2 separate regions of the Homo sapiens genome follow, and region 2 is linked to region 1. Evidence: fine-mapped expression QTL. A gene starts in region 1. The other region holds a variant in brackets. All regions are shown on one strand. Distances are from middle to middle. Region 1 holds the start of MAPKAPK5 (MAPK activated protein kinase 5). Region 2 has its middle 100 kb from the start of PTPN11.

Region 1 (2,899 bases):
CATCTGCCCAGAAATCTTTCCTTGGATTTCCAATAGCCAGCCCTTTCTCATTCCTCAGGGGTCTCAGCTTAAATGTTACCTCCTGAGATTCCTTCCTTAATCATCTAATACGAAGAAGTCCCCACATCCAGTTATTCTCTTACCTCAGCATCCTGTTTATGTTCTTCTTAGCATCAGACTCGGGCTTTTTCCTGTTTATTACCTACTTCGTTTTCCTGAAAGATCCATGTGCCGGTACCATGTGTTGTTCCTACTGTTTCTCCAATGTCTAGTAGATTTGGCACATACTGATGTGCAATTAATACGTGAATGAAGAACCATTGACAGACGATTAGTCAAAAGCTCTTGCAAAGCCCTTTGATAGGTTATCGGTGGAGAGTAGGGAGCACAAACCTGGGGTCCCATTCTAGCTTGACCACTTCTCGGCTGTGCACAAACTAGTCTAGCTCTCCTGAGCCTCAGTTACCTATTTTGCAAATTAGGGATGGGAACATCCATACCTCACGACGCCAAACGGCTACCTTGTAAAGACGAAAGGAGGAAATGCAGGAAATAACTCCACGTAAGGTTAATGCTCCGTAAACAGAGCTGCTACTGCTATTATATATTCTATACAATCCTGCGCCCTTAACGGCAGGACCCTTTCAGTGCTTCAGTCCTGTCTTCTCTCTCCTGGGTTGACCTCCACAGATCCTCTCAGAAGAGCGTTTTCCAGGCGTGAATCTCCGCAGAGTGGAGATAAAGGCTGAGGCCCCAACGCACGCGCACTCACGCGAGTCCGGGCCTATGACGTCATTAGCGCAGCGCCATCGCCGCGGAAGGCCCAGGGGCCTGTCCTGTATGCGGCGTGTCTTAGGGAGGCCCAGGCGGACGCCTGCAAGTCGGGTGCGCGGTTCGGGGGCGGCTCGGAAACCCCAGCGGAAGGCAGCAAGGGGCGCGTGGGGCCGTGGAGTCACGAAGCTGGGCGGCAGGAGGGGCGGCCTGGAGCTCCCGCGGGGCACAGCGCGTGCGTGAGGGCGGCCGGCGGGGCTGCCCGGCGCGGGTGTCCCGGCGATGTGTGGCGCTGAGGCGGCGGCGGGAGCAGCGGCGCCGAGCTCTGCTTCGGCTTCGGCTTCGGCTTCGCGGCGGTGCAGGCGGCGGAGGCGGAGGCGCAGGCTCTTCTTTAGGACCTGGCGAGCCCAGGTCTAAGCGGCGGCCCCGCGAGGCCCTTGCACGGCGCCCCGGGTCGAGGCCCTCCCCGCCTCGCCCTACCCCAGGAGCCTGCCTCCCCAGCTGGGGATGAGGCTAGGAGGCGGCCGCGTGGGGCCCAGCACAAAGACCTGTCCCCAGGGGCCGCCGCCTCCGCCGCTGCTGCTGCCGCCAGCCTAGAGCCGCCCGCCGAAGCAGAGCCGGCGCCGGGGTCCTCATCCCCACCGGTCCCGAGGGGCGGCTGCTGCCCGTCGCCACGAGGCCCAGGGGCCCGAGTGCCGAGCCCTTTGCTCCCTCGGCCGCGCGGGGACAGGGCTGCTGAGCAGCCTCCGCCTCTCCCGGCTGTGGGGGCCCCACTGAGTATGTCGGAGGAGAGCGACATGGACAAAGCCATCAAGGTAAGGGGGAGGTGCCCCCTCTTCCCCCGCGTTGTCCTGTGGCGTTCTTCTCGGCTCTAGCCTCAAAAAGCAGGGAGATTTTGCAGTGAGAGGTTCCATCGACTACCGGGTTTCGGCCTCCCCCGGATTCCGTGGATCGCGCTTTACAGCCCTGGGGCCAAGGGTTATGGGTGTGGGTGTAGGTGTGTGTCCGACTCCCGCCAGCTTCCCTGGTGAGTGTGATTTGTGCTCAGCTGGAACAGAGGTGAGTGGCCTGGAGACACTATTAAGTGTCAATGAATGGGACGAAGAGAGCCCTACTACTACTACTACACGTTTCGATCACTCCCCAAGGCCGCCAGCATTTGCTTCCGGATGGTCTACAGAACTTGGAGAGTTGGAATTTATCCATCCCTCCCGATTTGTTTGAAATCAGCCTTCTGGAAATCTGCAGTTGGAAAAAGGTGGTTCGCCGTACAAAACCTGTCCTTTGGGGAATAGGTTGTCCTCACTTTTCCGTGTATTCTCCCCTTTTTCTTTTTCCTCTTCTTTCTCCTAGGAAGCATTGAGTTTACTTAGGAAAAGTTAACAGTTCCTGTGACTTAACTGCACTTAAACCAAAAGAAAAGCAAATGTGTGTTCGAAAATTACACAAATAAAATAAGTTTTCTAAAACCTGTTTTTAACTTTTTTTTTTTTTAAAGGCACATTTTGCCCACTCAGGGCCAGTTATCTGTCTTGACAGCTGTAGCTAAGAAATTAGTCTTATGAAAATTAAACATTGACGCTTAAAGTTTGATGTATTATTTACTTATTTGTAGTGTTAAGTCAGCCCAGTGCATTGAATAATTTCATTTTATCTTGAAGGACAGGCATCTATTGGCAGCTTGGGGTTATTTTCCCCTTCAAGACAGTTACTAGTAATGATTAAGAATTTACATTTCTACCAATTCTTTAGGTGGTGTATATAGTTTCTCAAAATCATCAAGTCATTCCAAAGAAACTTAACCCTTTAAAGGAGGCATCAACATATAACATATACATTAAGGAAGACCAGGTTTTTTGTCTGTTTGTTTGTTTTTGAGACGGAGTCTCACTCTGTCGCCCAGGCTGGAGTGCAGTGGCCCGATCTTGGCTCACTGCAAGTTCCGCCTCCTGGGTTCACGCCATTCTCCTGCCTCAGCCTCCCGAGTAGCTGGGATTACAGGCGCCCACCCACCACGCCCTGCTAATTTTTTCTTTTGTTTGTATTTTTAGTAGAGACGGGGTTTCACCGTAATAGCCAGGATGGGCTCGATCTCCTGACCTCGTGATCTGCCCGCCTTGGCCTCCCA
Region 2 (2,899 bases), 680 kb after region 1:
ATCAACCATCAGGTTTCTGCTTAGGGTAAGTTAAAACAGGCGTTTTGGTTGAGGACGATAAATACCTCTGCGTTTTAGGCTGCAGGTGCAGATGGAGCATTCTGTTCTAGGCATGTTGATTTAGGAGGAAAATCGGAGTTTTGGAACTTTACAGGCTTGGGTTACTTTCCTGGTTTTGCCATTTACTAGCTGTGCGACCTTGGGCTTGTCAGTAAAGGCCTTCGGTCTGCCCATCCTCTTTAGAAAAATGGAGCTACTTTTCCTACTTTGTTGGGAAGGGTTGTTGAGAAGTTTAATATTAATGGATGGCCTGGCACATAGTGGGTGCTCAGTAAACAGCTGTGTTTTTCCTATGGGGCTAGGGAATGTCTTTCAGGCTTTTGACATAGCCTGTTGCTGGGGTCGTATTGTGTCCGGAATTGGTGGGTTCTTGTTCTCACTGACTTCAAGAATGAAGCTGCGGACCCTCGCGATGAGTGTTACAGTTCTTAAAGGCGGCGTGTCCGGAGTTTGTTCCTTCTGACGTTCGGATGTGTTCAGTTTCTTCCTTCTGGTGGGTTCGTGGTCTCACTGGCTCAGGAGTGAAGCTGCAGACTTTCACGGTGAATGTTACAGCTCTTAAGGCCGCGCGTCTGGAGTTGTTCCTTCCTCCCGGTGGGCTGGTGGGCTCGTGGTCTCGCTGGCTTCAGAAGTGAAGCTGCAGACCTTCGCGGTGAGTGTTTCAGCTCATAAAGGCAGTGTGGACCCAAAGAGTGAGCAGTAGCAAGATTTATTGCAAAGAGCAAAAGAACAAAGCTTCCACAGTGTGGAAGAGGACCCCAGTGGGTTGCCACTGCTGGCTCGGGCAGCCTGCTTTTATTCTCTTATCTGGCCCCACCCACATCCTGCTGATTGGTAGAGCGGAGTGGTCTGTTTTGCCAGGGCACTGATTGGTGCGTTTACAATCCCTGAGCTAGACACAAAGGTTCTCCAAGTCCCCCCCAGATTAGCTAGATACAGAGTGTGGACACAAAGGTTCTCCAAGTCCCCACCAGAGTAGCTAGATACAGAGTGTCGATTGGTGCATTCACAAACCCAGAGCTAGACACAGGGTGCTGATTGGTGTGTTTACAAACCTTGAGCTAGATACAGAGTGCCA[G/A]TTGGTGTATTTATAATCCCTGAGTTAGACACAAAGGTTCTCCACGTCCCCACCAGACTCAGGAGCCCAGCTGGCTTCACCCAGTAGATCCTGCACCAGGGCTGCAGGTGGAGCTGCCTGCCAGTCCCATGCAGTGCGACTGCACTCCTCAGCCCTTGGGTGGTCGATGGGACTGGGCACCCTGGAGCAGAGGGCGGTGCTCGTAGGCGAGGCTCTGGCCGCACAGGAGCCTATGGAGGTGGGGGGAGGCTCAGGCATGGCGGGCTGCAGGTCCCAAGCCCTGCTCCACGGGAAGGCAGCTAAGGCCCTGCGAGAAATTGAGCACAGCAGCTGCTGGCCCAGGTGCTAAGCCCCTCACTGCCCGGGGCCGGTGGGGCCGGCCTGCCGCTCCAAGTGTGGGGTCCGCTGAGCCCACGCCCACCAGGAACTCGCGCTGGCCCGCAAGCACCGCGCACAGCCCCGGTTCCTGCCCGCGCCTCTCCCTCCACACCTCCCCGCAAGCTGAGGGAGCCGGCTCCGGCCTTGGCCAGCCCAGAAAGGGGCTCCCACAGTGCAGTGGCGGGCTGAAGGGCTCCTCAAGTGCCGCCAAAATGGGAGCCCAGGCAGAGGAGGCGCCTAGAGCGAGCGAGGGCTGTTAAGGGCTGCCAGCATGCTGTCACCTCTCAGTATGAATTTACCAGTTGGTAACGCATAGCAGGGAGAATCAGTGCACAATATTCACAGATTGCATTAGGGTTTAGATAGCTCTTCCAAGAGGTAATTGTTAAGCAAAAACCTTTTACTTTTATTGCAGTCTATTATTAGTATTGGAAGTCCTCAGTTAGATTTTCTCCCTGGTATGGAATGAAAACTTAATTCAAACACACACAGGAGAGGCAAACATGTTATTATTTGCTAATGGCTTTTAATCTTGGGAAGAGAGATAGATTGATTATCACCTCTGCCTTGGATAATTGGGGGAAGTGCTTCCATTTTGGAGAGGGTGATTTTTAAAGAGTTGAGAGTGGGGGAAGGCTGAGAGTCAAGAGCTGGTTAGGAGTCGTGCCTGTGTGATTTTGGTAACTTAAGCTTCTAGAGCCTCAGTTTCCTCACTGAAGAATGTGGCTGACAATTGTACCGTACTGCCCATGCCACTGTGAGGATTAAATGAGCTAATAGACATCATGGGAACAATTGTTGGTTTTTTTTTTTTTTTTTTTTGAGACTGAGATTAGCTCTGTCGCCTAGGCTGGACTGCAGTGGCACGATCTCAGCTCACTGCAACCTCTGCCTCCCGGGTTCAAGTGATTCTCGTGCCTCAGCCTCCCAAGTAGCTGGGATTACAGGCACCTGCCACCACGTTTGGCTAATTTTTGTATTTTTAGTAGAGACAGGGTTTCACCATGTTGTCCAGGCTGGTCTCAAACTCCTGACCTCAGGTGATCTGCCCTTCTTGGCCTCCCAAAGTATTGAGATTATAGGCATGAGCCACCACGCATGGCCTGTTTTTGAGGCAGGGTCTCGCTCTGTTGCTTAGGCTGGAGTACAGTGGTGGGATCTTAGCTTACTGCAATCTCCGCCTCCTGGGCTCAAGCCATCCTCCTGTCTCAGCCTCCTGAGTAGCTGGAACTACAGGCACACACCACCACGCTCGGCTAATTTTTGAATTTTTTGTAGAGATGAGGGTCTTGCTATGTTGCCCAGGCTTGTTTTGAACTCCTGAGCTCAAGCGATCCACCTGCCTTGGCCTCCCAGAGTGCTGGGATTACAGGCGTCAGCCAC

What was found. PIP is the estimated chance that this variant, and not a neighbour inherited with it, causes the effect.
Region 2: its variant is the best candidate, but not a certain one, in a credible set for the expression of MAPKAPK5 in tibial artery (GTEx, PIP 0.65).

Annotation. Positions count from the first base shown.
Region 1 is chr12:111,841,184-111,844,082 of GRCh38, forward strand. MAPKAPK5 (MAPK activated protein kinase 5) reads left to right here and starts at 1,045. Exons shown (of 14, transcript NM_003668.4): 1 at 1,045-1,586. The coding sequence starts at 1,551. It overlaps MAPKAPK5-AS1 (MAPKAPK5 antisense RNA 1), which reads right to left and starts at 1,822. Exons shown (of 2, transcript NR_015404.2): 1 at 144-1,822. RefSeq lists enhancers at 621-900, 1,631-1,730 and silencers at 931-1,110, 1,191-1,540.
Region 2 is chr12:112,518,653-112,521,551 of GRCh38, forward strand. No RefSeq gene overlaps it. Among named protein-coding and RNA genes, the nearest start is that of PTPN11, 100 kb to the left of the region's middle. The variant G/A (reference allele first, on the strand shown) is at 1,139.